3 separate regions of the Homo sapiens genome follow, and all the other regions are linked to region 3. Evidence: fine-mapped expression QTL. A gene starts in region 3. Each other region holds a variant in brackets. All regions are shown on one strand. Distances are between the middles of the regions.

Evidence for each region.
Region 1: its variant is fine-mapped to the expression of WDR37 in whole blood (TOPMed, PIP above 0.99).
Region 2: its variant is fine-mapped to the expression of WDR37 in regulatory T cells (Bossini-Castillo 2019, PIP 0.95).

What each region holds. Positions count from the first base shown.
Region 1 is chr10:1,006,290-1,016,887 of GRCh38, forward strand. It overlaps GTPBP4 (GTP binding protein 4), which reads left to right. Exons shown (of 17, transcript NM_012341.3): 10 at 729-839; 11 at 2,669-2,746; 12 at 3,240-3,291; 13 at 4,131-4,231; 14 at 6,176-6,373; 15 at 7,958-8,023; 16 at 9,464-9,607. Among named protein-coding and RNA genes, the nearest start is that of IDI2-AS1, 11 kb to the right of the region's middle. RefSeq lists enhancers at 2,329-2,829, 2,830-3,330. The variant A/T (reference allele first, on the strand shown) is at 3,637.
Region 2 is chr10:1,104,115-1,115,459 of GRCh38, forward strand. It overlaps WDR37 (WD repeat domain 37), which reads left to right. Exons shown (of 14, transcript NM_014023.4): 11 at 1,012-1,153. Among named protein-coding and RNA genes, the nearest start is that of LINC00200, 50 kb to the right of the region's middle. RefSeq lists enhancers at 5,555-6,754, 6,072-6,654, 6,129-6,278, 6,655-7,235. The variant CAT/C (reference allele first, on the strand shown) is at 3,802.
Region 3 is chr10:1,051,398-1,061,679 of GRCh38, forward strand. It overlaps WDR37 (WD repeat domain 37), which reads left to right and starts at 4,988. Exons shown (of 14, transcript NM_014023.4): 1 at 4,988-5,571. It also overlaps a transcript of IDI1 not described here. RefSeq lists silencers at 4,466-4,525, 4,956-5,385 and enhancers at 4,636-4,685, 5,486-5,545, 5,646-5,705.

The DNA of each region.
Region 1 (10,598 bases), 45 kb before region 3:
ATTTCACATGCTGTCCTAATTACTTTGTATTTCATGTTGTTTTTATCTCAAATAAAAGGACATTTCTGGCCAGGCGCAGTGGCTCACGCCTGTAATCCCAGCACTTTGGGAGGCTGAGGCGGGTAGATCACCCAAGGTCGGGAGTTCGAGACCAGCCTGGCCAACGTGGTGAAACTCCGTCTCTCCTAAAAATACAAAATTAGCCGGGCGTGGTAGCGCATGCTTGTAATCCCAGCTACTCGGGAGGCTGAGGCAGGAGAATCGTTTGAACCTGGGAGGCGGAGGTTGCTGTGAGCTGAGATCATGCCACTGCACTACAGCCTGGGCAGCAAGAGCGAGATACCATCTCAAAAAAAAAGATGGCACTCCTGATGCCATGGTCGCACTCAGGATTTAAAAAGATGGCACTCCTGATGCCATGGTCGCACTCAGGAATTTGTTGCTCGGTTAGAGTCCTGAGGGGCAACATTGCCTCCGGTTCGTGAAGGGCAGTTGGAGGGCACCGTCTGTGCAGAGGGTCACTGTGGTGGGAGAGAGGCCCAGGCACTGGAGATGCACCTTCCCTCAGGGCCGCTTCCACCTGGGCCTCAGAGAATGTGGCCCCCTACGTGTTAGTTACCTTGAGGGAAAAGGCTCAGTGGCTCTGATCTGTGGCTCCTCCTGGAACCTGTAGCTGGAGGCTGCTGGAGGATGCGTTTGTGACTGTGCCTTCTTTTTTACGTTATTAGGCTTGCGATAGGCTTTTGGCTCATCGAGTGGAAACCAAAATGAAGGGAAATAAAGTGAATGAGGTGCTGAATAGACTGCACCTGGCTATCCCAACCAGGAGGGACGATAAGGTAAGACGGCCCCTGGGACAGCCGTGGGCTCACAGTACTGTCAGCAGGTGCTGTCTGCGTGCCTTTTCCAGAAGCCTCCCATCCAGCTTCACACACTCGCAGGTGGATATTGTGGGTGGGCCTCAGTTTCACCTTCTTGCTTACATAAAGGATCGAGAAGGTGAAGAAAGTGCAGAACGCCACATGGCACCCGTTTCCCACTGCATGACGTGGTCACTGTTAGTTTATCCTTCCAGAAATGTTTCTGATATAGAAGATTAGTTTCTAAAAAGTTCTTTAAACACAGATGGAAATCTGTTTCATTCTTTAAATTTTCATTTTTTTGGCTGGGGGAAGTAGCTCACGCCTGTAATCCCAGCACTTTGGGAGGCCAAGGTGGGAAGATTGCTTAAGCCCAGGAGTTCTTGACCAGCCTGGGCAACATAGTGGGACCCTGTCTCTATAAAAAATAAATAAAATAAATTTTCATTGTTTTGTCCATTGTGAATGGGCACACATCGTTACGCTGTGTCTTCATGTTTTACTGCAAATGTGTCTGCACTTCACCATGTGGTGTTGACAACGTTCCTGTCCCACAGACGCCTTCCTGGTGTGTGCTGCACTGACGCTGGAGGCTGTGTCCTTCCCTCTGTCTTTCCTTGTGTCCTCGGCGTGGTCGGGCACTGACTGTCAGTCTTGTGTAAAGATGATTTTATTGTTGTGTGTTTATGTAATGCTGGGTGCGGTTGAGCATGTTTGTCTGCTTATTGGCCTTTTCAAAGTTCTTTAGGCTGTTTATCTTTTTCTCGCTGATTTGTTACTTTTGTATTACAAAGGTTGGATTCTTGTCAGATACATTGCAAATTTTTTTCTCTTTTTGTCACTTGCCTTTTTAACTTCAAATGTGCTGTACATTTTTGAACTATTAACATATATTAATTTTTTTTTCTGGGTGTTCAGGTTTGCATTGTACATAGAAAGGCTTACCATTCATTCCAAAGTCATTTTAAAAGTATCTTTTCTTGCTGGGTGCAGTGGCTCACGTCTGTAATCCCAGCACTCTGGGAGGCCGAGGCGGGTGGATCACCTGAGGTCAAGAGTCTGAGACCAGCCTGGCAATCATGGTGAAACCCCATCTCTGCTAAAACTACGAAAATTAGTCGGGCGCGCACCTATAATTCTACCTATTCAGGAGGCTGAGGCGGGAGAATCGTTTGAACCTGGGAGGTGGAGGTTGCAGTGAGCCGAGATCACTCCACTGTACTCCAGCCTGGGTGACAAGAGTGAGACTCTGTCAAAAAAAAAAAATTATCTTTTATACTAGCATTAAAAATTAGCTTTTTTGGATAGTCTTCACCGTGTCTTGAGTTGGTTATGTTGTGAGGGTGGAGGTTGCACTCCGTTTCAAGTGGTCGGCATTTCTGACCTGAGTATTGGAAATTTTATGTTTCCATTGAATTCTTATATGCACTTGAGTTTATGTCTAAATTTCTTTCATCTGTTGATCCAGTGTTATTTCTTACCACTTTCTTCTTCCATAATTTTTCATGATAATCATGATTTCTGTTTTTCCTGGATAAACTTTGGAATCACTTTGTGGAGTCCTCCTGGTCTCTGTGCTCAAAGTGACCCTGAACCCACTCCTCTCCCCTAAAATAATCTGTTGGTTGTTAATTGGTCTCGGTATGAACCCACTCCTCTCCCCTAAAATAATCTGTTGGTTGTTCATTGGTCTGGGTATGGTTTTCTGTTCCCCTTGCACGTAGGGAATTTGTTTCTACTTTTTCGGCTTTGTAAGTTTCTCATTCAGCAGGCATTTCACATAAATATTTTATATGGGATCTTCTCAGGAGAGGCCCCCTTTCATCCCTGAAGGAGTGGTGGCTCGCAGGAAGAGGATGGAAACTGAGGAGTCCAGGAAGAAGAGGGTATGCTGCCGAAGCTCTCGCCCAGTGTTCTCATGGGGGGAGGCAGGCTGTGTGTGCCCATCGTGGGGGCCTGGGGCATCGAACAGGAGCCGCGGGTGCCCAGACACTGGCCCCGTCAGGCTGCGGACACAGCAGTGAGTCCCCCTGCAGAAGCCTCTCTCATGGGGCTCTTTGGCCTGAGGGAAGATGGCCGTGAACCAAATGCATGAGTGGGATAGACAGTCCCCAGATGGCCAGAAACAGCCTCTTCCTACCAGAACCTAAAGGCCGGCCCCACAGACAGGGAGATAAGAAACAGCCTCTTCCTACCAGAACCCAAAGGCTGGCCCCGCAGACAGGGAGATAAGAAACAGCCTTCCTACCAGAAATGGAAGGTGAACCCCACTGATACTGAGAGGATTGGAGAAAAGATTGTTTCAAGTGACAAGGGGCAGAGCATTTCTGGATCTGAAAGGCAAAATGAAGCTGATGATAATTTCTCTTTCTATTGCAGGAACGAGATCTTGAGCTGGAAATGGGAGATGATTATATTTTGGATCTTCAGAGTAAGGGCCAGAGTGTGATCATTATTATAAAATGCCAATTGGACGTGAAGTATTTCAGAAAATGGGGGAAAGACTTTAATAAGTAATAAAAGTGTTTCAGCCTATTTGTCAACTTTTAATTTCTTGAAGATTAAAAGTTGCATCCTGAGGGCCAGGTGCAGTGGCTCACGCCTGTAATCACAGCACTTTGGATCCCTTATGCCCAGGAGTTTGAGACCAACCTGGGCAACATGGCAGAACCCCGTCTCTACAAAAAATACAAAGATTAGCCGGGTGTGGTGGCATGTGCCTGTAGTTCCAGTGACACGGGAGGCTGAGGTGGGAGGATCACTTGACCCTAGGAGG[A/T]CAAGGCTGCAGTGGGCAGAAATTGTACCTCTGCCCTCCAGCCTGGACGACAGAGTGAGACTCTGTCTCAAAGAAAGGTGCATGCTGATAGCACTCAGTGGGGGTTCTTCCATTGTTTCCTGTTGTTTTGGGATGGTGGGGTGATTTCTGTAGCTTTCTCCACGTGTGGGTGTTGAATGAGGCTGATGTGTTGTTTCCTGTTGTTTTGGGATGGTGGGGTGATTTCTGTAGCTTTCTCCACGTGTGGGTGTTGAATGAGGCTGATGTGTTGTTTCCTGTTGTTTTGGGATGGTGGGGTGATTTCTGTAGCTTTCTCCACGTGTGGGTGTTGAATGAGGCTGATGTGTTGATGCTGCTGCATGTGGAATTGCACGTCGTGCTCTCTTCTGCAGTGGAGTCGTTGATTTGCCGTCAGTCACAACTCATTTTGCGCACGTAGTACTTGAAGATATTAAAAACTGCTGTAAACGTAACCACCTTTTTTTTAACTTTAGAGTACTGGGATTTAATGAATTTGTCTGAAAAACATGATAAGATACCAGAAATCTGGGAAGGCCATAATATAGCTGATTATATTGATCCAGCCATCATGAAGGTTTGTGTCACTTTTTAAATTGCGGATTGTTTTCCTTTTTATTATAGTAGTATTGCTGGAAGATAGCAGCATGGCTTCGGCTCAGCTGGGCCTGTCCGCTTCATTCTGCACCCCTCCATCCTGACTCTGCCCCCTGTACCACTTCCCCACCCTGAGACTCTGGTGGAGATACTGGCCCTGGCTGGGCTCTGCTATGCTGGCCTGCCCCCTTCCCGCCGCCTCCACCCACCCACCCCGGACACTCTGGTGGAGATGCTGGGCCCCTTCGTTATCCTGCACCCCTCCATCCTGACTCTGCCTCCTGCACCTCTTCCCTGTCCCGACACTGGTGGAGATGCTGGGCCCCTTCATTCTCCTGCATCCCTCCATCCTGACTCTGCCCCCTACACCACCTTCCCCACCCCGAGACTCTGGTGGAGATGCTGGGCCTCTTCATTCTCCTGCACCCCTCCATCCTGACTGTGCCTCCTGCACCACCTTCCCCCCCACCCTGTGTCTCCGCCAGGCCCTGGATGGGCTCTGCTGTGCTGGGCCCTTCATTCTCCTGCATCCCTCCATCCTGACTGTGCCTCCTGCACCTCTTCCCCCCACCCCGAGACTCTGGTGGAGATGCTGGGCCCCTTCATTCTCCTGCATCCCTCCATCCTGACTGTGCCCCCTGCACCACCTTCCCCACCCTGTATCTCCGCCAGGCCCTTAATGGACTCTGCTGTGCTGGACCCTCTTCCTTGGGGGCTCCGCTGTGTCACATCTTTTTCCTGCCTCAATCCCCTCCCTACTTGCTTTTTCTTAGCATATAAAAGTCCACAAGTTTTACTCATCTTTTTAAAAAACGAAAACATCCTTAGACCGTGTCCTCCATTAGTTGCTATCCTGCCTTCTTCTCTCAGCTGAGCTGTCTGAAACATGCTAACATGCTTATACAATACTTGCTGTCCTGCCTTCTGCTCTCAGCTGAGCTCTCTGGAACATGCTTTTTATACAATACTTGCTGTCCTGCCTTCTTCTCTCAGCTGAGCTCTCTGGAACATTCTTTTTATACAATACTTGCCATCTGCATGTCCCATGTTGCCACTCCTTGGTTCCCACAGGCCCTCCGTCATTGAGTTCACATTTTCAGTCTCGTGGTCTCTGTGCTCCCTGTGCCTCCATAGCAGATTCTGGGATAGCAGATTCTGGGGGCAACAATCTCAATTTCGTTGGTGCTGGAGGAGTGGCCTCAGGGCATCTGCTGTCACCTCTGCTGGGGCCCCAGTCCAGCCCGTGCCCTCACTGTCCCCGCGGTGGCCGCCTGCCTTCCCAGCCTCTTCCCCTCTGCAGTGCGCGCTCTTGGGCGCAAGAAGCCTTGAGACTTCCCTCCTCCGCACAGCTGTGCCCGTGCCATCCCCTTCCACGAGGCCTGGCCCCCGTCTCACCCTCTGCACTGCTGGCCAGCATCTCGTACAGGCACATCTGCCTGCTGGGCTCCTGGCCGGGTTGCCTCATTGGGGGGTGATAAACGTGTGTGTTTTAGTTTTCATTTTTGTCTTATTTGTAGCCAGTGAGGTTGTATTTGGGGTGACATTAGAACGGACACGTGGGATGTGGCACGAAATCAGTGTCTCAGGACTGAGTTCCTTGTGTGTGTCTGCCGGGAGCATTGGAAGTGAAGGAGGCGGTCTCTGCACATTTTTAGCCTTGGAATTTAATTGTTTTAAAAAAAGGAAATGGTGCACAGGGGTTACTGACTTGCTGGCGGCTGGCGTTCACGTGGTCTCCATTTTCTTCACAGAACCCTCCCTGTGAGGTAAATGGCACATAGGCAGGGCCCAGGTGGGTCTGGACCAGGGCAATCGCTCTCCTCTGAGTCAGGGAAACAAAGCTCCCATACACACTCTGCCACACTCACTGACTCAGGGGTTTTCTCATTGTTAATTTTGCTTCATTACAACTCCATTTTTAAAGAAATTGGAAGAATTAGAAAAAGAAGAAGAGCTGAGAACAGCTGCTGGAGAGTATGACAGTGTATCTGAGAGTGAAGACGAAGAGATGCTGGAAATCCGACAGCTGGCAAAGCAAATTCGAGAGAAAAAGAAGTTGAAAATTCTGGAGTCCAAAGAAAAGAATACACAGGGACCCAGGATGCCGCGAACTGCTAAGAAGGCAAGTTTGTGTCTTTCCAAAGCAGTGTGATCTAGTTTTTGAAAATTGGATTCCTGTGTGATCATTGCTAAATAACAACTTTTCAACCCATTTATGGCCATAAGATTGCACATTCTTGTTTTATTGGTGTATGGATTTGCAAGATCGCTCACGTATTGATCTTTTATATTCTTTACTGCGTCCTTTCTTGGTGACTTTCAGCTTCGAGTTTGGCACTACTCTAGATCCAGTCATTTTGCAGTTGTACAGATTAAAACTGTAACTTATGGTTCACAGACGTTCAAGGCTATCAGTGAACATTTTCCTCTTCTTTTTTCTCTCTCTCTTTTTTTTAGGGGGGAGATGGAGTCTTGCTGTGTCTCCCAGGCTGGAGTGCAATGGCGCCATCTTGGCTCACTGCAGCCTCCACCTCGCGGGTTCAAGCAATTCTCCTGCCTCAGCCTCCCGAGTAGCTGGGATTACAGGCACCTGCCACTACGCCTGGCTAACTTTTGTATTTTTAGTGGAGATGGGGTTTCACCATGTTGGCCAGGCTGGTCTCAAACTCCTTACCTCAAGTGATCTGCCTGCCTTGGCCTCCCAAAGTGCTGAGATTACAGGCGTGAGCCACCACGCCCGGCTGGTTTTCTTGTTCTTTAATTTCTGCATTAAATCTGGACTCTTTAGGCCGGGCGCAGTGGCTCACGCCTGTAATCTCAGCACTTTGGGAGGCTGAGGTGGGTGGATCACGAGGTCAGGAGATTGAGACCATCCTGGCTAAAACAGTGAAACCCCGTCTCTACTAAAAATGCAGAAAAATTAGCTGGGCGTGGTGGCGGGCGCCTGTAGTCCCAGCTACTCGGGAGGCTGGGGCAGGAAAATGGTGTGAACCCGGGAGGCAGAGCTTGCAGTGAGCCGAGATTGTGCCAGTGCACTCCAGCCTGGGCAACAGAGCAAGACTCCATCTCAAAAAATAAAAAATTTAAAAAAAAATCTGGACTCTTTAGCAATTTACAGAAACCTGACGCAGTCTACAAAAGGCAATTTATTGGCTCTGTGGCAGGGTGGGACTGGGGGAAGAAAGCCCACATGCAGGGCAGTTAACATGTAACCAGAGAAGTCACTTGACATTCAGGATGCCTCTCAGTGGGTCTTCCTGTTTGAATACACTGTTTTCACATGGTGGCAAGTGACTGGTTATGGCGGACTTGGACATTTTTGTACTTCTCCAGGTGGGGCTCAGCCATCTCTGGGAGGAGAGAGGTTGGCGCACTGCCTTTGTCTGAGGCCACCTCACTAACCTCAGCTTTAGTGTCTCACCTCTGATGGAGACGGTCACTCTCTCCCCCGTGTTGCGGTGAAGAATGGACAGACGTGGAGGATACGCTGATTCTTCCCACAGCAACTGCTCTGTTAATGTTAGTTTTCGTGGGATTTAATTGAGCTATCCAAAAACATGAAAGCGGGGCCCAATAAAAATTACAACTTCTAAAATAAGTATATTATAATTGTTGCAAAATATGTATACATATATATTGCCTTGAAGTTTTTTTCAACATTTCATCAAACTAATTTAAAGCTAATATTTCTTTTTATCCTTCTCAGGTTCAGAGGACAGTTTTGGAGAAGGAGATGCGTAGTCTTGGTGTTGACATGGACGATAAAGACGATGTGAGTGTGGGGGCGGTTCATGTGTTTATGTGGCTGGATACACCTTTTTAATAAAGAAAACTGGCCGGGCGTGGTGGCTCATGCCTGTAATCCCAGCACTTTGGGAGGCCAAGGCGGGCAGATCATGATGTCAGGGGTTCGAGACCAGCCTGGCCAACATGGTGAAACCCAGTCTGTACTAAAAAAAATACAAAAAATTAGCCGGGCGTGGTGGCGTGTGCCTGTAATCCCAGTTACTCAGGATGCTGAGGCAGGAGAATTGCTTGAACTTGGGAGGCAGAGATTGCAGTGAGCTGAGATCGTGCCCCTGTACTCCAGCCTGGGCGACAGAGTGAGACTCCATCTCAAAAAAAAGAAAGAAAGAAACCAGGGTTTTGGAAAGCCGTGGGAACGTGGGAAATTACAGCAAAAAGAAATGAGAGCTTCCAGTTTTTCTCTTTTGAGATTCGCTGGCCCTGGGACTGACTTGAAGTGATGGGTTGAGGATTCCCTGACCCTGGGTCTGGGTTGAAGTGGTGGATTGAGGCTGCACTCCAGCCTGGGCAACAGAGCAAGACTGTGTCTCAAAAAAAAAAAAGCTCCACAGCCAGCACGAGACAGCACCATGACGTGCCCAGGGTGTGGCTGCAGACCCTGTCCTCTAGATGTGCAGTCTGCAGTTTCCGTCTGATGGTTTCTGTCTGATGGTTGTCCCTTTGTGTTCATATCAGTAACCCCCAAAATGGGGCAGTGAGGGAGAGAGCATTGTTTATATCTGAAATATAAATTGTGATGCTATACTATAATAATCACTTTTAAATGAGAGTTCTAAGTTTCTTTAAGTGGAGTTAAAATCAGCTTTCTTACGTAAAGCAGCTTCCGTTAAGTGAATAAGAATATTTGACCAACAACTAATGTGAAATTGTTACTAATGTGAACTTGAAATGGTGTCACTAATATGAAAATACTGCGTGTATTTTCAAGACCTTTAGCCCATGTGTTAATGGTTCAGACGCTCCTCTCCTCCCCTCTTGCTGGAGTGACCTCATGCCTGTCGCTGAGCCTGGGTGCGGGGCTGGGGTCCTGAGCTCTGAGCCTGGGAGTGGACCTGGGGTCCTGAGCGCTGAGCCTGGGAGTGGACCTGGGGTCCTGAGCGCTGAGCCTGGGAGTGGGGCTGGGGTCCTGAGCGCTGAGCCTGGGAGTGGGGCTGGGGTCCTGAGCTCTGAGCCTGGGAGCGGGGCTGGGGTCCTGAGCGCTGAGCCTGGGAGCGGGGCTGGGGTCCTGAGCGCTGAGCCTGGGAGCGGGGCTGGGGTCCTGAGCGCTGAGCCTGGGAGTGGACCTGGGGTCCTGAGCGCTGAGCACTGAGCCTGGGAGTGGACCTGGGGTCCTGAGCGCTGAGCACTGAGCCTGGGAGTGGACCTGGGGTCCTGAGCGCTGAGCATTGCTTCCCCTGCTTTGCAGGCCCATTACGCAGTCCAGGCAAGAAGATCCCGGAGCATCACTAGGAAAAGAAAGCGGGAAGACTCTGCTCCCCCGTCCTCTGTGGCCCGGAGTGGGAGTTGCTCTCGAACTCCACGTGACGTTTCTGGTCTTAGGGATGTCAAGGTCAGTCTCTGTGTTGTGTAATGTAATAAAATGACAGTCTCTGTTGTTTATTGCACAGGGTTCAGGGCAAACACCAGCAGTTGCCATTTGCAGGAACTATGGCAGGGGTTGTGTGTACTGCATGCCCTCGTTTTGTGGCATCCTTTAGAGGAGAGCACGGGTCAGGGTGCAGGTGGATGCCCCTGACAGCTGCCCTGGATGGACCCCTCCTTGGCACTTTGCTTTTGCGGAGGGTGGCCAGAGCATGGTCTGACAGCACTAGCAGTCTGGGCTTAGACCCTGCTGTCTGAAGAGGGCCAGGAAGTGGCCACAGCTGAGCACCAGGAGGCCTCAAGTCCAGCAAGCCCCCCATGGGAGGAACAGCAGAGGGAACTCCTGGGTTGATTGGCGGGTGATCCTGCTCATCCTTAGGTTGCAGGATTGTTCCCCCCAGGTGGAGAGCTTGAGTCACATTTAGTTTATTTGTAGCGTCTTTTGGCAAAGACACTTAAGATGGACACAGTCTGTCTTGCTGAAACGTCCTTTTATTAAACACAACAACTTTTAGTTTCAGCGTTGTGGTAATGGAGATGCAGGAGAGTCTGTGTATAAACTGCAGTCTCCTTCATGGAAGCCTGAGCTTCACTCCTCTGTGCCATTGCCATCTTGAAACCTGGCTGTTAATATTGGCATTGCCACTTGTCAGTCAGACCTGAGGAAAACAGGTTCATGGGCCTGAGTCCTTAGCTTGTGTAAGAGGGAGTTAAAACAGATGTGTGCTAACCTTCTAGGTCTAAAGTGTATCTAGTCCTGGGTATAAAGCTTGTCCTGGGTATGATTTTCATCCAGTCTTTATACAAAAATACTCATTGAGTTCCTGCAGATAACTGTGCTGGGCTTAAGAGAAAAGAGATGTAACAGGGATAACTGTGCTGGGCTTAAGAGAAAAGAGATGTAACAGGGGTAACTGTGCTGGGCTTAAGAGAAAAGAGATGTAACAGGGGTAACTGTG
Region 2 (11,345 bases), 53 kb after region 3:
ATCTTAGTGTCTTAAAACGACAGGAATTGACGGCCTCATGGTTTCCCAGGTCAGTAATTCTGGGCCCGTGGTAGCTGCTCTTCTCCCTGGGCCCTCAAAGACCTAAGTGAGGGTGCTGCCTGGTCAGGACCTCCCCAAGGCTGCGGTCCTCTTCCAAGCCTGCTGGTCATTGGAGGAGCTCCTTCTTGCGTCTGGAGTTTGAGGCCCTGTCTTCTTGCCAGCTGCCAGCCGGGGCTCCTCTGGGCGTGCAGAGGCTGTGTCTGGCCCTGGGGCCCCTGCACAGGGCTTGCCTTTCCCACACAGCAGCCGCTTTCCTCTGCAGCTGGAGCTCCCCTGCTGCTCTGAACTCTCCAACTTCTGGGACCCTTTTTAAGGGCTAGGCCAGACCACCCAGGACAATATTCCCTTTGATGAAGTCAAAGTCAACTCATTTAGGGACCTTAATTACATCTGCAAAATCCTTTTTGCCTTATAATGTATCATAATTACCAGAAAGATAATCTCATCCTATTTACAGGCTCTGCCCTAACTGAAGGGAAGGGTGTTAGGCATGTACGGGGTGGGGGTGGCTTGGGGCCATCTTGGGATGCTGCCTGCTGAAGTTGCTTCTGCGAATCTATCTCTAAGTGCATTTCCTGCATGAGCGTTAAAGATTGTATTTGACTGAGGACCCATAGCGTTGTATCATTAGAAGGTATTCTAAGCAAAGAATCAAGATTTAAGTGGTTCTCACATTCAACCTGTTAATTTGCCTGACCTTCTAACTGGTAGGGTCAGAAAATGGGTTATGCACCTGTTTGGTTTTCTGTTCCTTTGACATGGACGGCTGAAAGGACTTCAGCTTCTGAGGGAAAACCTGCCCCACTGTGACCCACATGCTGCTGAGTGATTCCATTAGGTCAGGTTCACAGTCTCAGAGAGACGGCTTCTTGGGTTCTTGTGCTGTTGAAAAGCGTCTCTCTCAGCGTGCTCCTCAGGTGATGACCTTGTGTTTTGCCATCTTGGTTACAGGGCACGACCAGGAGTTGACGCACTGCTGCACACACCCCACCCAGCGGCTCGTGGTGACCTCCTCCCGTGACACGACTTTCCGCCTCTGGGATTTCAGGGACCCCTCCATCCACTCGGTGAATGTTTTCCAGGGACACACGGAGTGAGTTGCGGTAGTTTAGACATCTGTCCTTAGTCATGAAAAAGTTCTGTGGGTTGACATGAAAACTTAATTCTAGCCTTAATTTTCAGTATTTCCGACTCTACTATCTTTCAAAAAAATAACTACCTTTCAAATTCTGCTATTCTTTTTCTAAACATTTAGCTCCATTTTGGCTATTTCAAAGGATGTAGGAGATTAAGAGAAGGCACCCTCCGAAGTTCTCTCAAGAAGTTTAATGCAGACAGAATGGGGGAGTGGGTGGAGAGGGTTAGAGAAGAGCAGGGCTGCCAGAGCCTGTAGCTGAGCACAGGGGCCGGCCACGCCACCATAGGAGCCGCGGGAGCTGTTACTCCTACCCACGGGGTGTCTCCTGGATCTTTTCCATCTAGTTTTTGTTATTACACGTGTCTGCGTGGTATATTCTGGGAGAAGGTATACACATAGACGCGCAAACACAGACATAGACCCTCAATCCAGTGTGTCCCTCTCTGCTTGGGTTTCTCTCCGGCAACTCAAGTGTAAGGTCTTTTTTTTCTGAGACGGAGTCTCGCTCTGTCGCCCAGGCTGGAGTGCAGTGGCGCTATCTCGGCTCACTGCAAGCTCCGCCTCCCGGGTTCACGCCATTCTCCTGCCTCAGCCTCCCGAGTAGCTGGGACTAGAGGCACCTGCCACCACGCCTGGCTAGTTTTTTGTATTTTTAGTAGAGATGGGGTTTCACCGTGATAGCCAGGATGGTCTCGATCTCCTGACGTCGTGATCCGCCTGTCTCGGCCTCCCAAAGTGCTGGGATTACAGGCGTGAGCCACCGCGCCCAGCCGTGTAAGGTCTTAACAGAACTCTTCAGTTCTTTCCGTGACCGTCTCCTTCCCCCAGTCTGGCCCTGCTCAGTCAATGATGAGACCGTCTGCCCAGTCACGGGGGCTGTCTACCTAGAGTGTTCCCTGGTTCTTCTCTTTTAATCTCTGTTCCCCGTTCCCCCATCATGCCCCACTGTGGTCCACTGGCAAGTCTCCTGCCAGCCATGCCTGTGGGATCTTCCCGGCCGCTCCTCGCTCCTCCATGCTCCCCCTACCTCCCACCAGTGCTGCTCTCCACCCCGACGTCTGGATAAGCAGTGTGCATTGAAAGGTTTATAAATGAACTCCAAATATGAAAATCTGTTTTATATGTTTAACGTTAGTTACTAAGTTTTAGATTTAATGTTCAAAATGTTAGTAAGATGTTGGAAAGGAAAATAGGACTTTTTGTTTGTTTGTTTGTTTGTTAATAGACGGAGTCTCTTTCTGTCGCCCGGGCTGGAGTGCAGTGGTATGATCTCGGCTCACTGCAGCCTCTGCCTCCCGGGTTCAAGCGATTCTCCTGCCTCAGCCTCCCTAGTAGCTGGGATTACAGGCGCCCACCACCATGCCTGGTTAATTTTTGTATTTTTAGTAGAGGTGGGGTTTCACCATGTTGGTTGGGCTGGTCTTGAACTCCTAACCTCAGGTGATCCGCCTGCCTCAGCCTACCAAAGTGCTGGGATTATAGGTGTGAGCCATCGCGTCTGGCCAGGACAACGTTTTTAAAAAGAAGCTTGAGATTGGAAAGCTAATTCCTTGACTCTGAGGCTGGAACGGGAGCAGGCAGCAGTCACGACCATGCGTAGAGATCTTTATGGCAGCCTGGGTCTGTTCTGGGGGCATCACACGCATTAAACTGCTCCGTCCTGACATCAGGTCAGCGTTTATTCTGCCAGCTCCGTCAGCGATAGCCATAGTAATACAGACCTCCCGGTGGTCAGTGGCTGAACGCAGCACTGTGTTGTTGCTGCATCAGGGTGCAGCAGGCGCTGAGCTGGGCCCCCATGAGCTCCGCCACATGGGCCTGACCCCGCTGCAGGCCAGCTCATTGGTGAGGAAGATGCTGCAGCTCGGGGAGCGCTGCTTCCCATGCATGTTAGCTTGGATGTGGTGCTCCCCGACGTCCACCAGATGCAGAGGGGCCCCACAGCAAAGCCCTGGCTGGACCTGGGCCCACCACCTGGCACCACTGTGTAGGGCGGGGCAGAGGGGCCCGCATGACTGCCCTGCTGTTTCTCATGAGAATTCATTGGAAGGGCAGTCGGAGGCCTAGAGGACGGGAGGAGCAAGATGGTCTCACTCCTGCGCCTGCAGTGCTTTCCTAAGCTTTTTGCTTAGAAAAGTTTCAAGCCTACATAAAAACCAACAGAGTAGTACAGTGTACCCACAAACCCTTCACCTAGGTTCGCCTGTTGTATTGCAGCACTGCTGTCTCTTTACACATGTGTACACACCTCTCTCTGAAACACACGCCCACTAACCCTTCACCTAGGTTCACCTGTTGTATTGCAGCACCGCTGTCTCTTTACACATGTGTACACACCTCTCTCTGAAACACACGCCCACTAACCCTTCACCTAGGTTCACCTGTTGTATTGCGGCACTGCTGTCTCTCTTTACACATGTGTACACACCACTGTCTGTAACACACAACACGCACTACCCTGTCACCTAGGTTCGCCTGTTGTATTGCAGCACTGCTGTCTCTCTTTACACATGTGTACACGCCTCTCTCTGAAACACACGCCCACTTCCCCTTCACCTAGGTTTGCCTGTTGTTGTATTGCAGCACTGCTGTCTCTATTTACA[CAT/C]GTGTACACACCTGTCTGTAACAGACACGCCCACTTATCCTTCACCTAGGTTCACCTGTTGTTGTATTGCAGCACTGCTGTCTCTGTAGATGTGTACACACCTCTGTCTATAACACACACTTGTATATTTTCTTTGGCTGAGCCCTTTGAAAGGAAAACTCCAGCATGCATTTTCTAAGAATAAGGATGTTCTCCTAATACAGTACCATTGTTCAAATAAGAAAATTAGTAAAAATTCTATGGCATCCTTTATCTGGTCCACATTTAAATTTACTCAGTTCTCCCCAAAATGTCTTTGATACTTTTTTTAGAGCTAGGATTTAATCAGGATTCTCTCATCACATTTAGATATTATGTCCTTTGGCTTCTTTTAATCTAGAATGGTCCTTCCCCCATTTTTTGTTACTTTTTAGGATATTGAGTTTTTTGGTGAAGAATCCAAGCCTGCTCTTTTGCAGAACGCCCCTCATTCTGCATTTTTCTTATGACTTCCTTTAAGTGCCCCTCTGCTGTGCTATTGGTGTGCTGAAGCGCTCCTGCAGTTAAGATGGCGTCTGCAGGTCTGCCTGCCAGAGGTGCTCTCCTGTTTCAAATAGCGAAGCGACACTATTCTATGGATGTTAATTCCCCAGTGACCTTTCCTCGGTCCAGGGCTTCAGCTCATTGTTACGCTGAGTCCTGCAGAAGGGGATCTTTGTACTTCTGTCTACACTGGTTAGTTGGCACTGTGTTTTTTGAGTATTAGCGAGCATAGACACCTGCACTTTGTTGGTGTTGGTGGTTGTGATCCCTGTGGTTGCTTTGGTTTTGGCTTCTGTGATGCCCCCCCCCCCCGTGGAACCTGCAGGGCCCTGAGTGCCACCATCCTGGCACAGCTCCCTGCCCCAGGCTGGGAAGACCCAGCAGCTCTCACTGCATTGACTCTGGTCATCTGTATGGAGCACAAAAATCTGTCAGAGCTTTGAGAATTGGGTGAAGAGGGTAGTTTTGTGTCTAGAGAGCAGGGCAGCTTCCTATGTGCTTCTGATATGGGGGTTGCAGGGATAGGCCAGTGTGCCCTGCTGTGCCTGTCCCCTTTGAGGGCAGGATGGAAAGGCCGAAGAATTCTGTCCAGAGGAGGACGCAGTGGAGCCAGGGCTTGGTGAGTTGCTGGTTTGTGCCAGGCACTGTTGGAGCCCCTGGCATCACCCCAGTTCAGAGAGAGAAACTGAGGCATGAGGAGGCCAGGTGGTTTGCTGAGGGTTTGGCTCTAGGGGGTCATTCCAGAGCAGTCCCTCCTGGTGCCTTCAAGGTGCCTCTTGTGTTATTTAAGACCCTTCTAGTCCTGTATTGTCTCTGTTCAGTTGCCATATTTAACTGGAAGATTTTATTTTTGTTTTGTGTAAAAAGAAAAGTTTTTGTATTTATATCACCAGAGTTGATTGCAAGTGCATGTTTTCGCTTCTAAGGCTGTTGCAACCGTGTGGTCTTGGCCATTTGACTGTGAAGTGAAGTCAGTGCTGGTGGCATCTTTAAAATATCTGCTTAGGCTGGGCGCGGTGGCTCACGCCTGTAATCCCAGCACTTTGGGGATCACCTGAGGCTGGGAGTTTGAGACCAGCTTGACCAACATGGAGAAACTCTGTCTTTACTAAAAATACAAAATTAGCCAGGTGTGGTGGCGCACGCCTGTAATCCCAGCTACTTGGGAGGCTGAGGCAGGAGAATCGCTTGAACTTGGGAGGTGGAGGTTGCGGTGAGCCGAGATCACGCCGTTGCACTCCAGCCTGGGCAATGAGCGAAACTCCAAACTCCGTCTCAGAAAAAAAAAAATTCTGGTTAATTTGTGGTACATTTTTGCAGCTAGTGGATACATGAAACAATGGTAGTTTTTTAGAGAGCTGTACTTATGAAGAATGTAGTAAGTGTTATGAAAAAGTTCTTACTAATGTGGACCTATGAATACAGTTTCCTAGGGTTTATGTCTTCCTATTGGAATCAGGTGTGGGGGTAGAGTAAGGTGGAGTGTGTAATTCCCGTGTGCCCTTTCTCCCACATGGGTCTTCCAGGCTGTAGGCTGTGCTTCCATTCACCTGAACCACGGGGGTGAGGTGAACGTGGACCAGACCTGCCCGGGCCATGCTTACTCAGATCGTTTACGCTTTCTTTTTTCTTACTCAAATTATCATGAACTAGCGTATCTTGTTGATGTGTACATCCAAAAATACGTTTTGAAAAGATCTCTCTTTGGCGCTAATTTTGTTGCTGTGTCGGGGCGAGTCCGCTGGGCTGTTGGACATTGAGCTTCCCCTCACCGGCCTGGCGGTTTCTCAGCTGTGCGCATGCAGGATGAGGGCTTGGTCAGCAGGTGGAGCCGTGGACGCCTTTATTGAACACAAACTCTTCCTTCCTGACATCAGATCAGCTGTAAACCTTTAGACGTGCCTCATAATGAGAAAAGCAGGAAATGAGTCATTTTACAAAAATGTTTCATCTGAGGTGTCTTCTTAGTAACACTTGCCTTTGTCTCCGGCATGGGTTTTGTAGGTTCGAGCCAATACGACAAATAAAACCTACAGAGTGCGTGATCCTTACAAATGTGTAGAGCTGTGCATCCGCGCCACAGCACACCAGGGTGAGGGCCTCGCAGTGCGGTTTAGGTCCTGAGATGTGCGTCCGCGCCCCAGCACACCTGGGTGAGGTCCGGGGTGCGGGTTTAGTTCCTGAGAGGAATGGCCAGGTTGTGTGTGTGTGTTCCGTTTGGTCACTTGTCTGGGACGTTCTGAACATGACTTGTAAGAGCACACCCTGGGTCCCCTGCCTTCCCTGCCACCATGTCATTCTGAGGGACCCTCTGCGCCGGGGGCTTCTCTGCAGTGGCCACGGCATCGCCAAGGACATCCGTGAGCCTCCGATGGGTGTCCAGCGTGTTAGCGCCCAGACCCACAGGGCCTGGCACCCTGATAGGTGGGAATGTTGGCCCAGGGCCGGGCCTGAGGCCTGCAGGACTGCCTGCTCATCCGGGAAGTAGCTCTGCCGGTTTTACAGGGTGATCCTGAGTTCTTTTCACTAGTTCTTTTCCTGAGCATTGAAAGCAAAAGTCAGACATGTGTTCTTAGGAAGTTTGCTGTTCTTGTTGATGTAGGCTGGAAAGTTATATGCATGGTGTTTTTAGTGATACCCCTTAAACAGAGGCAGTATTTCTTCAACATGTGTGACTAAAAATACCCTTTCTCACATAATTTATATTAACATGATGTGGAATGTGCTTTTCAAAGTTTTATCTTAGGGCGTATTTTCACTTGTAGGAACTAAGCGTAAATTCTTTAGTATAGTATGTTGGAATCTAATGTCTTTTATAATGTAAATAATTAACTGTCTAGTTAAGGTGAATTGCTGTATATTGGGTTTTCTTAAGGCAAGAAGTAGCTCTAAAGGCTTAAGGTAACTGGCCCAGTTTTGTGATCCAGTTTCCAGGAGAGATTTTTCCCCACTTTCTTTTTTTTCTTACTGTAATCCCCATACTTTTACTTGCATTCTGTGCCTTTTTGAAAGACTGGAGTTTGAGTTCCAATGCTTCACTGTAAGAAAGAAAAGTGTAGCGAAATGGGTCCCCTGAAACGTGTGGTCATTACCTTTGCTGGATGGGGATGGAGCTCCGTGCTGTGAGCTGCTGAAGGCTTTGATCCTACGTGTTTAGAAGGACCAGTCACCTTTTCCTTTTGATGTGTCTTATTTCTTTCCACTCTGTGTTGTGGCATCTCTGTATTATAGCAGGAATTTTACCATGATAGTACTTAGTTGGCGTAACTGTGTGGCTGTTTTTATTTGACTGTTTGTTAGTGACCCAGCGTGTACTGATTTATATGAAAAGCAATTTTAGATACTTCATATAGCAGAAATGTGAAGTTGTAGTATGTGTTGTTATTAGAAATAATAAAAAGGCTTAATTTGAAAATTTCAGTGTGTCACAGGAATTCAGCTGTTGGTGGCTATTTCTCTCTCTCTCTTTTTTTTTTTTGTGAGACGGAGTCTCGCTCTGTTGCCCAGGCTGGAGTGCAGTGGTGCAATCTCGGCTCACTGCAACCTCCACCTCCTGGGTTCAAGCGATTCCCCTGCCTCAGCCTCCCAAGTAGCTGGGACTGCAGGCACGTGCCTTGGTGGCTATTTCTTACACCTTGTTTGATTGCACTCCGTAGATTGATGTTTTTTGCAAATGAAGGTCTGTGGAGCCCAGCCCTGGCTGAGCAGGTCTGTTGGTGCCAGTTTTCCAACAGCACGTGCTCACTTCCTGCCTCTCTCTCACATTTTGGTCATTCTCACAATACTTCTTACTTTTTCATTGTGATTATATGAGGGTGGTCAGTGACTTTTGCTGTAACTGTTATAATTGGTTTTGAGGCCCTGGGAACCTTGCCCATAGAAGACAGTGAACTTAGTCGATAAATCGTGTGTGTTCCGACTGCCCCACTAACTGGCCGTTCCTTCGTCTCTCACCTTCTCCTAATGCCTCTGACTTCATGAGTGAGACACAACACTGTTGAAATTAGGCCAATTAACATCCCTATAGCAGCCTCTCAGTGTTGAAATGAAGAGTTGCGTGTCCCTCACTTGAAAGCTGGAAATGACGAAGCTTAGTGAGGAAGATGTGTCGAAGGCAGAGAGGCTGAAAGCTGGGCATCCTGCACTGGACAGCCAGGTTCTGAATGCAAAGGAAAAGTTCTGGAAGGAAAGTAAAACTGCTACTCCAGTGAACACACGAATGATAAGAACACAATCCTAATGCTGATATGAAGGAACTTTGAGTGGTCTGCATTGATTAAACCAGCCACAACATTCCCTTTAGCCAAAGCCTAATCCAGAGCAGGGCCCTGACTCTTCAATTCTGTGAGGGCTTAGAAAGGTGAGGGAGCTGCGGAAGAAAAGCTGGAAGCTGGCAGAGGTTGGTTTATGAGGTTTAAGGAAGGAAGCCGTCTCCATAACATGAGAGTGCAAGGTGAAGCAGCAAGTGCTGATGGAGAAGCTGCAGCAAGTTCTCCAGAAGATCCAGCTGGGATCATCGATGAAGATGACTATGTTTAATAACAGATTTTCAGTGTAGACAAAACAGCCTTCTGTTAAAGAAGATGCCACGTAGAACTTTCCTAGCTAGAGAAGAGAAGTCACTGCCTGGCTTCGAAGGACAGACTGATGCTCTTGTGAGGGGCTAGTACAGCTGGTGACTTACAGTTGAAGCCAGTGCTCATTTACCATTCTGAAAATCCTAGGGCCCTTAAGAATTATGTGAAACCTACTCTGCCTGTGCTCTATAAATGGATCACCAAAGGCTGGATGAGAGCACATCTGTTTACACCATGGTTTCTGAATATTTTGAGCCTATTGTTGAGGCTACTGCTCAGGAAAAAACTTTTTTTTCAAAATTGTCCTGCTTATTGACAGTGCACCTAAGGGCTCTGACGGAGATGTACAAGGAGATGAATGGTGTTTTCATGCCTGGTAACACAACCCCCATTCTGCAGCCCATGGTTCAAGGAGTCATTTTGACTTTTGAGTCTTATTATTTAAAAAATACACTTTGTAAGGCTATAGCTGCCATAGATAGTGATTCCTCTGATGGACCTTGGCAACGTCAATTGAGCACCTTCTGGAAAGGATTTATCATTCTGGTCGCCATTCAGAACACTTGTGATTCATGGGAGAAGGTCAAAATGTCACAGGAATTTGAGAGACGTTGAGGGGTTCAAGGCTTCAATGGAGAAAGTCACTGCAGGTGTGGTGGAAACAGGAAGATAACTAGGATTAGAAGTGGATCCTGAAGATGGGACTGAATTGCTACAATCTCACAATAAATTTGAATGGACGAGGAACTGCTTCTTATGGATGAGCAAAGAAAGTGGTTTCTTGAGTGGGAAGGTACTCTTGGTGAAGATGCTGTGAACATTGTTTAAATGACAGCAAAGGATTTTGAATATTCCATAAACTTCAGTGGTAAAGCAGTGGTAGGGTTTGAGAGGACTGACTCCAGTTTTGAGGTTCAATTGTGGGTAAAATGCCTTTTTTTTTTTTTTTTTTTTTTTAAGATGGGAGTCTTGCCCTGTTGCCTAGGCTATAGTGCAGTGGTGCTATCTTGGCTCACTGCAACCTCCGCCTCCCAGGTTCAAACAATTCTTCTGCCTCAGCCTCCCGAGTAGCTGGGATTACAGGCACCTGCCACCATGCCTGGCTAATTTTTACATTTTTAGTAGAGACAGGGTTTCACCACATCGGCCAAGCTGGTCTCAAACTGCTAACCTCAAATGATCCACCTGCCTTGGCCTCCCAAAGTGCTGGGATTACAGGCGTGAGCCACCATGCCTGGCCCCAGTAAAATGCTTTTAAACAGCATCACATGCGGTAGAGAAATCTTTTGTAAAAGGAGAAATCAATTGCTATAGCAGACTCCATTGCTGTCCTATTTTAAGAAATTGCCCCAGCCTTCAGCAGCCACCACCCTTATCAGTCAGCAGCCATCAGCATCGAGGCAGGACCCTCCACCAGCAAAAAGATTATGACTTACCAAAGGCTCAGATGACTGTTAGTGTTTTTTAGTGGTAAAATTTATCTTACTTAAGAAATGCACATTGCGTTTTTAGAGGTAATGCGGTTGCTCACTTAACAGACTACAGGATGGTGTGGCTATGGCTTCTGTATGCACCGGAAAACCAGACAGCTCTTGTGATCCGCCTTACTGCGATCTTCACCTCACAGCGTGTTCTGGAATGAACGGAACCCGCAGAAGCTCCGAGATTGCCTGTGTTTGTCCTAACCACCAGGAGCTGCAGCTGGAAGTCAGTGCTTTTCACCTGAACTAAGTTCTTTTCTGTTCGTGTGTTTTTCACCCGGCAGTGTAATTCCATAAGTCTGGCCCTCTCCTGGCTGCTGCATTCCCTTGCACACACCCAGGGGGCTGAACCCACACGCAGGCCATTCCAGCGTGGGCCCTCACTGTGCAGACCGTGGGTGAATAGACGTGCCTGCAAGAGGCTTTTGCTGTCATGACATTTGCCTGTTTAGATCTCAGCCTCAGCCCTCAGACCTCCCTCAGCACACCCCAATCCCGTAGAGTTTTCCTCCCCTCCCCATCTCCCTTTTTTGTTTTTTTTTTTTTGTTGTTGTTATTTTGGTTGCTATAAAAAGGAGCTGACAGGCGAGGTGTCACTGGCCATTAAGCCTCCTCTGTGGGTGGCAGGTGGCTCTGCCTTGTGCCGGGCTGGCAGTGTTTGCAATGCGGATAAACTTTAGCATTGAAAAAAACAGGAGATCATCTCAACATGGATGCAATATTTGAGGATGCAAAGTTTTTTGTTTTCTTCCTTTTTAATTCTTTGCAAACGATTTTAACTTTATTCCCAAAATGTGGTCTTTGGTGCTTTCTTCTAAAGAAAACAAAACACACATCTAACCAAACAAAATTTTAAAAGATCAGTTGAGAAATTATAATGATCACTTTGAAGTGATGACATGTTTGTGTGCTTTTATTTCCAAACACCTGGGGGAGAGATTTGGTACTAAACACTGAGTTCT
Region 3 (10,282 bases):
AGTGGCACGAACATATTTATTTTCACGAAAATGTCTGCCAAATATCTAGGTTTGAATACCTCAGTTTATCTGTCAGTTCTTTCCAGTAAAAGCGGTATTTCATGAAAAAAGCAGCTAGTTAGTTCAGCTTACAACTCAAACGTTCCCACAAGTTCTTTTCCTGGAGACAACAATCATAATTCAGCATGTAGCAGAAGTGCTTTATGTGCATTTCCCATTTTGTTATAGAGAATATTAGATGAGTACTGAATGGTCGAGATGATTAAAGTTAATATTTTTTACTGCTAACCATCAGCTGAGCCTTCAATGAGTCATAATCTTTTTGCTGGTGGAGGGTTTTGCCTCAATGTTGATGGCTGTTGATCAAGGTGGTGCTTGAAAGTTGGGGTGGCTGTTGCAGTTTCTTAAAATAAGACAATAATGAAATTTGTCACGTTGATTGACAATTCTTTTCATGAAAGATTTTTTTTAAACCACAGGAAAACTTTTTTTTGAGACAGAGTCTCGTTCTTTCGCCCAGGCTGAAGTGCAGTGGTGCGATCTTGGCTCACTGTAACCTCCACCTCCTGGGTTCAAGCAATTCTCCTACCTCAGCCTCATGAGTAGCTGGCACTATGGGCGTGTGCCACCATGCCCGGCTAATTTTTGTATTATTAGTAGAGCTTGGGTTTCACCATGTTGGCCAGGCTGGTCTTGAACTCCTGACCTTGTGATCTGCCCACCTTGGCCTCTCAAAATGCTGGGATTATAGGCATGAGCCACCGCACCCGGCCAGGAAAACTTCCAAAGTTAGAGTCAATCCTCTCAAACCCTGCTGCTACTTCATAAACTAAGTCTATGGAGTATTCTGAATCCTTTGTTATCATTTCAACAGTGTTCACATCTTCACCAGGATTAGGTTCCATCTCAAGAGACCACTTTCTTTGTTCATCCACAAGAAGCAACTGCTTATCCATTCATGTTTTATTATGCTAGTGCAGTGATTCAGTTACATCTTCGGGCAGCCATAGCCTTACAAAATGTATTTCTTAAATAATGAGACTTGAAAGTCAAAATGACTTCTTGAGCTATGGGCTGCAAAAGGGATGTTGTGTTAGCAGGCATGAAATCAACATGAATCTCCTTGTATATCTCCATCAGAGCTCTTGGGTGAACAGGAGCACTGTAAATCAGCAGTAATATTTTGAAACGAAATCTTTTTTTTTTCCTGAGCAGTAGGTCTCAACAACAGTGGGCTGACAATATTTAGTAAACCACACTGTGTAAGTAGATGTGCTGTCATCTAGGCTTTGTTGTTCTATCTACACAGCAGAGGCAGACTAGAATTAGCATAACGCTTAAGGACTCTAGGATTTTCAGAATGATAAATGAGCACTGGCTTCAACATAAAGTCATCAGCTGCACTAGCCCCCTAGCAAGGGTCAGCCTGTCCTTTGGAGCTCTGAAGCCAGGCTTTGACTTCTCCTCTCTAGTTATGACAGTCCTGGGCGGCATCTTTTCCCAAAATAAGGTTGTTTCAACTCCAATGAAAACCTATTGTTTAGCAAAGCCGTCTTCATCAGTGATCTTAGGTAGATCTCCTAGATGACTTGCTGCTTTATCTTGCACTTGCACATTTTTTTTTTTGAGATGGAGTCTCACTCTGTTACCCAGGAGTGTGGTGGTGTGATCTTGGCTTACAGCAACCTCCAACTCCTGGGTTCAAGTGATCCTCCTGCCTTAGCCTCCTGAGTAGCTGGGACTACAGGCGTGTGCCACCACACCCAGTTAATTTTTGTATTTTTAGTGGAGGCAGGGTTTCACCATGTTGGCCAGGCTGGTCTTGAACTCCTCACCTCAAGGGATCCACTTGCATTGGCCTCCCAAAGTGCTGGAATTACAGGCATAAGCCACCATGCCTGGCCTATCTTGCACTTTTGTATTATAGAGACAGCTTCTTTCCTTCAACCTCATGAACCAACCTCTGATAGCTTCAGATTTTTCTTCTGTAGCTTCCTTACCTCTCTCAGCCTTCAGAAAACTGAAGAGAGTTAGGGCCTTACTCTGGATTAGGCTTTATCAGAATATTGTGGCTGGTTTAATCTATACAGACCACTCAGAGTTTCTCCATATCAGCAATAAAGCTGTTTTATTTTCTTACCATTTGTGTATTCACTGTAGGAGCACTTCAAATTTCCTTCAAGAACTTTTCCTTTGCATTCACGACTTAGCTGTTTCAACATGCCTTCCTCACCATGCTTAATCATTAATCATTTCTAGTTTTGATTTAAAGTAAGAGATGTGCAACTCATTCTTTTATGAAACAGTAGCCATTTTAGGGCTATTAATTGCCTGATTTTTTTTTTTTTTTGAGTCAGGGTCTTGCTTTGCTGCCCATGCTGAAGTGCAGTGGCGTGATCACAGCTCACTGCAGCCTCGAACTCCTAGGCTCAAGCAATCCTCCTGCTTCAGTCTCCCAAGTAGCTGGGACTACAGGCATGAGCCACCACCATGCCTGGCCCCTAATTTCAGTATTGCTGTGTCTCAAGGATAGGGAGGTCTGAGCAGAAGGAGAGAGATAGGGAGGCAGCTGGTCAGTGCAGTGGTCAGAACACATAAAACATTTATCGACTCAGTTTGCTGTCTTATATAGGGGTGGTTCATGGTGCCCCCCAAGCAATTATGACAGTAATATCAAAGATCACTAATCACAGATCACTATAACTGATTTAATAACGGAAACATTCCAAGAATTACCAAAATGTGAGAGAGACATGAAGTGAGCACATACTGTTAGAAAGATGGTGCTGACAGACTTGCTCCATGCAGGGCTGCCACAAACCTCCACTTTGTAAGAAACATATGATACCTGTGAAGTGCAATAAAGTGATACACATGAAAACAGTTGTGCCTGTTACATGACATATATACACACATATATATAACTTGAGAATTTAGGAAGCGACATGTCAAACAGCTTATAACACTATAGTGTACTATCCAAGTGTTTGAGACACAGTTAAAATAATCAGTAATGAGGACAATGACAGAATACCTAGTAAATCTTAATTCCCTATCAAACCATGCGCAAAAATGAGTCTTAGTAAATTCAGCATTGTTGCCCTATGTCAGGGACAAAGTACATGTATTTTGCATAGATGGACATGTGACAAAATAGAAATTGGTTTTCTGAGACAGGATTCTCCACAGCTTCTGCAGGAGGGAGAATGTAACTGGATACCAGGATTGCAATCATAACCTTTTATAATTTCGGCTAGTTTTGTGTCTTTTAAAAAAATTACATTGGATAGTTATTTCAGGATACAGTGTGTTATGGGTTAAATTGTGTCCCCCTTTCAAATTCATGTGTTAAAGACCTCACTTCCAGTATTTTATAATGTGACCTTATTTGGAAACAGGGTTGTTGTGGATATGATTAGTTAACATGAGGTCATATTAAAGTAGCGTCTACTGTACTCCAATATGACTGATGTCCTCATAAAAAGAACGCTAAGTGTGCAGACAGACACGGACATGGAAAACGTCATGTGAAGACTGGCGGGGGCATGCTGCCACAAGCCAAGGAATGCCTAGACGCTGAGATGCATTAACAGGCTCCCATCACAGCTCTCAGAAGGAATCAACCCTGCCAATACCTTGATTTGGGACTTCCAGTCAGACCTCTGACAATAAATTTGTTTAAGCTGCCTAGTTTGCAGTATTTTGTTCCTGCAGCCCTAGCACATCAACAGTGAAAAGAATATGGATTCTGATGCCAGCCTTTAGTCTTTGCCCTGCTGCACGATTATTTTTGACTTTTGACGAGTAATTTCCACATTCTCATGCTTAAAATTCAATTTAGAATAACTTTTACTTTATTGGATTCCTTTGGGGATTAAATTAGTTACAAAAGATGTAAAGCGACTGATCCTCAAAATGATTTCTTTCCCTTGTTTTGTGACATGTCATGCTCTCAGTTATTTTCAGTGACTTTTATGGAATCCTAAATATATCAACTTAAAAAATTACATTAGCGATATTCTTGGTGTTACCTGACTGTGGTGCGGTCCAGAAAAATAAAACCACCTGTTAGAATGCGGGTTAATTAGATGGGACACTGCGATTTACAAAGCTTTCTATTTGCTGCCATGCCCAGTACAATGTCTTTGCATACTAGGTACTAAATAAAATTATGTTACTTAAATGTCACAACCTCTAAAAGTTTAAAAAATGACTTCTCTAAAAACTCAAATATTTTTTTCCTTGGCGTTCCTCTTACAGAATTGTTTTTAGTGATAAAGTTTTATTAATATACTTAATGCAGAAATAACTTCACTTCTTTTTTTTTTTTGGTAATCTGGATCCCCTAAATAGAATGCTAAATTTGTTTCTTGTGCAACAAACAAGTTACCACTTCTGACTCTTCATCTTGAGCTTCCTTATTTTTTTTTGGAGACGGAGGCTCGCTCTGTCCCAGGCTGGAGTGCAGAGGCGCGATCTCGGCTCACTGCAACCTCCGCCTCCCGGGTTCAAGCGATTCTCCTGCCTCAGCCTTCCGAGTAGCAGGGGTTACAGGCGCGCGCCGCCACGCCCGGCTAGTTTTTGTATTTTTAGTAAAGACAGGGTTTCACCATGTTGGCCAGGCTGGTCTCGACCTCCTAATCTCGTGATACGTCGGCCTCGGCCTCCCAAAGTGTTGGGATTACAGGCGTGAGCCACCGCGCCTGGCCTTGAGCTTCCTTTTTAAAGGAAGGAGCAGGAATGTTAACCTACACAGAAAAAAAAAATGCTTTCACGCTCTTGATTTACTCTAGGTGGGCTTCAAATGCGCGGTTAGCGCTTTCTGTAGAGCGTTGAGACGGCTGTTTACGTAAAGACCATCATGCGACGTTTCCAACCTAGATTCTAAGAAAAAAGCGGCCCAAGTCCCACCTTTCGCAGGGAACAGCTGATTCTGTTTTTCCTTCCCAGCCAATGGTGATCAAAAGCTTCAGGACGCTGGTGAGTCACTGCGGAGGAGCCGAACACTGACCGCGCCGTCCCCGCCAGGCTCCCGCGCGGCCGGCACCGCGGCCCTGAGCGCAGGCGGCCCCGGGTCTCAGGCCTCAGGCGGACCGCGCCCCGGGCTCGCAGCCCTCCCGCCCCGGCTGCCGGGCTACGGGGCAGATGGACTCGGAGCGCCCCGCCGGTGAGTAGCTACGACCCCCGAGGCCACCTCCCGCGAACCGCTCGGCGGCAGGAGTACGTGACCAAGGGTGGGGGCGTTGGCCCAGCAGCCGAAGGGGTCTTCAGCGCGCCCAGACCCCTCGGGGCTGCGGGGCGGAAGCCGGGGCGTGACTTCCGGCGCCGCCGGGTGTGGGGCGGAGGTGTGGGGCGGCTTCCGGAGAACCCAGCGGCGCGGGACTGGGGCGGGACTTCCGGCGACACCGGAAGTGCATTAGCGCCAGGTTGGGGTTGTGGGGTCGCGTCAGTGCGGAGACAGCGGTGTCCTGCGCGTCTTCGGGTCAGTACGGGGGGCCGCGTCGTAGGGACTCACTGGCGGTGCGCGACCTGGGCTGGCTCCGGGGGTGGCGGGCGCAGCTGCTGTGACAGGTGAGTGCCGCCATCTTCCTACCTGTCAGGCGCCGAGTCGTTCCCCGGATGCCCCGAAGAGGAGTCGGGACACTGCAGGGCTCAAGGGGGTGCAGGGGCAGTCGGGGCATAGTGGCGGATGGGGTGCAGGTGGGCTTGGAATGCAGAGGGTCCGTGGTGGTGCAGGAGGGGTCGGGTCCCTGGAGGACCCGTGGCGGTGCAGGAAGGGCCGTGGTGCAGAAGGGTTCAGGGTGCAAGAGAAGTCGGGGCGCAGGAGTAGTCCGTGGCGGTGCCAGAGGGACCAGGGTGCGGGAGGGATGGGGGCCCGGGGCGGTGCAGAAGATGTCGGAGTCCAGGAAGAGTCGGGGCGCTGGAGGGGTTGGGGGCAGAAGGGTTCGGCCCGGGGTCTCTCCCCGCCCCCTTTGCTTCGGCCTGGGCATCCCGGGGAAGTGCGTCTCCAGGGAAGCACTTGGGAGGCCCTTCAGAGAGGAGAATGGCCTTTCTTCTCTCCAAAGAGTGGGGATGGTCGGCTTCAAGAAGGGTGGTGAGTGTGGAGTGACGGATGCTGAAGTGATTAACACAGCGCCATGATATTGTTCCCCTTTTGAAGACTTCCTTTTCCTTCCCTTCCCCCTGAAAGCAGCCACCGCTGGAGGGAAACATTTTAAGACAGCTGTTCACCGGAATAACACAAGAGCAACAATAATAATGTACTCATTTACTAAACCAAGTTGAATAAATACATTTTTCCAGGTTGTGAGTGAAAATAGCTTAAGGTCTGCCAGGTTTTTAGAGATTTTGTCATTTAACTTAAACGCTAAAACATTCGTCCCTTGAAGCGGATACCATTATAGAAAAGTGTTAATTGCTTGGAAGTTTCATTTATTGAAGTTCAAGTGTTTTTCTCTTAAATTCAGTATGTTGGCCTGTGAGTTACGGTCATAAAAGTATTGCAGGAATTATTTACCTCTGAATGAGAAAGCTCAAGATAGTTATATCTCCAGGAACTTTCTTCGTCTTCTGAACTTCCCCCAACCCCAGCAGACACACACACTGTTCTGGTTACTTTCCTGATCAAATTCGAGTCTTTCAAAATAGCTTTTGATATGTCCCAGGAGTTAAACACGGTATGTAAATATGAACTCACCAATGTGGAACAAATGGAGTGATCTGTTATCCCCTGGGTTTAGACGCTGCCTTTCTATTAATACTGCTCACAGGAGACAGAGTAGGGACTCGTGTGCACTGGCCACGTCTCAACAGCAGTGTGACCTTGGGCAAGGCCTTCCTAAGTCCCGACTCCCTGTCCTCTAACATGGTGTTCATATCAGCCTCATTTTCTTACTGGGAAGGTTACGTTATGTAATATATGCCAGCCATTTTTGCAAAGTGCTGTATACAGGAGATCTTGAGTGAGTGTGTTTCCCTCCTCCTCTTTTTGGGTAGCTATGTTAGGCTGTTCACTTTGGGCATTTGCCCTGAACTAAAATCCCTAAGTCCCTTTCCCCAAGGTGAAACTAAGATAGAGTTTTCATATTTATCCTGTCTTATTCTTTTCAGGGAAAAGATTTTACATCTGTTGAATTTCATCCTTGGTTTAAAGTTGTTCTTTTAACTACTGAGATCTTTTGAAAATCTTGATGGCTATTTATCTGATTAATGGTATTTCCTAATTGATTGTCATCCACAGAATTGATGGTGTATGTATTCCATGCCTTCATTTCGTCAATGACAAAACATTTTAAGCAGGTTAATACTGATGACAGATTTCTGAGGTTGCCTGTAGAGACCATTCTCTTCCTCGATATTGCTCAGAAGTTGAATTTGGTGTCTCAGCCCACTAGGAATTCGTCTAACAGTGTTATTACGATAAAATGTTACTACAAACTTGATTAAACTTCTGGTGGAAATTCCATCACATTTTATGCAATTTTCAATTTATTTCTCCAATTTATTTTTAATGCCACATGGACATTATATTCCTTAACCATTCTTTTGCATGTGATTAACATTTGTGAAATTAACCACTTAAGCAAGTGTTTTTGCTTTGATGAAAGAAAAATGTTTAAAATCCTACTGGATATGAAACTGAAAGTAATGTTTTGTGTTTTTTGTTTCAAATGAAAGTGTAAATTAAGAATTTGTTGGCAGGGCGTGGTGGCTCATGCCTGTAATCCCAGCACTTTGGGAAGCCGAGGTGGGCAGATCACCTGAGGTCAGCAGTCCAAGACCACCCTGGCCAACATGGTGAAGTCCCGTCTCTACTAAAAATACAAAAATCAGCTGGGCATGGTGGCGGGCACTTGTAGTCCCAGCTACTCAGGAGGCTGAAGCAGGAGAATCACTTGAACTCAGGAGGCAGAAGTTGCGGTTAGCCGAGATCACGCCACTGCCCTCCAGCCTGGGGAGACAGAGCGAGATTCTGTGTCAAAAAGAAAAGAATTTGTCGTATTGCTGTTTCAAGCTACTTTGGTTATGTTATCTGCCTTCCTCAAATTATACACACTTAGGAGAATGATAATTTCTATAGCTACAAATTAATTAATATTGGAAATATTGAAAAGAATCTGGCCAGGCGCAGTGGCTCATGCCTGTAATCCCAGCACTTTGGGAGGCTGGGTCAGGTGAATCATGAGGTCAGGAGTTCAAGACCAGCCTGGCCAGGATGGTGAAACCCCGTATCTACTGAAAATACAAAAAATTAGCCAGGCGTGGTGGTGGGTGCTTGTAACCCCAACTACTCAGGAGGCTGAGGCAGAGAATTGGTTGAACCCGGGAGGTGGAGGTTGCAGTGGGTCGAGATCGCGCCACTGCACTCCAACCTGGGCGACAGAGCGAGACTCTGTCTCAAAAAATATATATATAAAAGAATCTTTTGAGAAAGAGCAGAAAGCTAAGTGTTCATTGATGCTGTTTAATATTACAGCATTTCTGTCACGCAGGCTGGAGTGCAGCGGCATGATCTCAGCTCACCACTGCCTCCACCTCCCAGGGTGGAGCAATTCTCGTGCCTCAGCCTCCAGGGTAGATGGGAGGCGTGTACCATCACGCCCAGCTGATTTTTGTATTTTAGTAGAGACGGGACTTCACCATGTTGGCCAGGCTGGTCTTAAACTCCTGACCTCAGGTGATCCGCCTGCCTGGGCCTCCCAAAAGGCTGGGATTACGGGCATGAGCCATCATGCCTGGCCCAATATTACAGCATTTCTAAAGATGAGGAATTCAGCTTGCTAACACAGTGTGTTTATGGGTTTCATTAATTAGTCGAATGTTTGGCCAGTGCCTGCTGTGTGTAGAGCACTGTGCTGCATCACAGCTGTGTGCCTGTTGTTCTGACTGCTTACAAGCAGTGGGGTGTATTACGTACACGGCAACATATACTAAGGGCAGGTGAACTGGACAGACTAAATGAGTCAGGAGTTCAGAAGGAGCGTTTATTCTGTTAAATCCATGGTAGGATAAAGAGATTGAATTTTTAGAGGGGACTATTTATAGTTTCTTGAAAATAATGTTTTATTGAAAACCAGAAGGACATTTAATCTCCATAAGCCTTCTTTGTAATATGGTAATCTGTCCAATAATATTGGGTAAATGTGAATATTTTGAAGGAAAATAATTACGTTTTGGAATCTCAGGTTTCTCTTTGCTTGTATTTAGGTAAAACAGTGCATAGAGGTTAAAGAAGGTTATATTTGGAGTGAAGAAGTTTGTTTTTTCTCTTTACAGTTCTATAATCAGTTTATTAGTGTTTAGTCTGTTAAATACAATCGGGTGCCACATAACAAATGATGTTTTGGTCAACAACAGACCTCATGTAAGATGGTGGTCCCATAAGATTGTAATACTCTATTTTTACTGTACCTTTTCTATGTGTAGATATGTTTAGGTACACAAATAGATACCATTGTGTTACAGTTGTCTGCAGTATTCAGTACAGTAACATGCTGTGCAGGGTTGTAGGCTAGGAGCAGCAGGCTGGGCCATCTAGCCTAGGTGTGGAGTAGGCTGTGCACCTAGCTTTGTGTAAGTGTACTCTGCGATGTTCCCACAGTGACGAAATCACGTAACGATGCATCTCTCAGAACCTGTCCCCATCCTTAAGTGATGTATGACTGTGTTGAAAGGCTCTTAATTGGATTTGGGAACTCTGTCTCATAGGGATGTTATGAGGATTAGTGACTCTTTGTATTTATTGATCCATTTGAGCCTTACAGCAATTCTTTGTAGTAGCTCTTCAGCCTCTGGTAGATCTGCCAGTCCACCAACTTTCTTCCAGTATCTCTCCATTAATTCTTTCTGTTTTCACTTCCCTTCCTGTCTATTTTAGATTCCATGGTATACCATTTCAGTAGTTTTACAAACACCTGCCACTTCCTTGTCCCTCTTCCCATGATACCAACCTGAAAACCCCCTAAACTGGTGATTAAACATTTAAATAAGATTTATGCTACGCCGGTTGAGCATCCTAATCCAAAAATTCAAAATCCATAACATGACACAAGTGGAAATTTCCACACCTTACCTTGTGACAGACAGGTTGTAGTCAAAATGTGGGTGCGCAACATAGTTTATTCAGGATCCCCTAGGGCAAAATAAAATTACCTTCAGGAGGCCTGCTGTGGTGGCTCAGGCCAGTAATCCCAGCATTTTGGGAGGCCGAGCTGGGCAGACCACTTGAGGCCAGGAGTTCGAAACCACCTTGCCAACATGGTGAAACCCCGTCTCTCTTAAA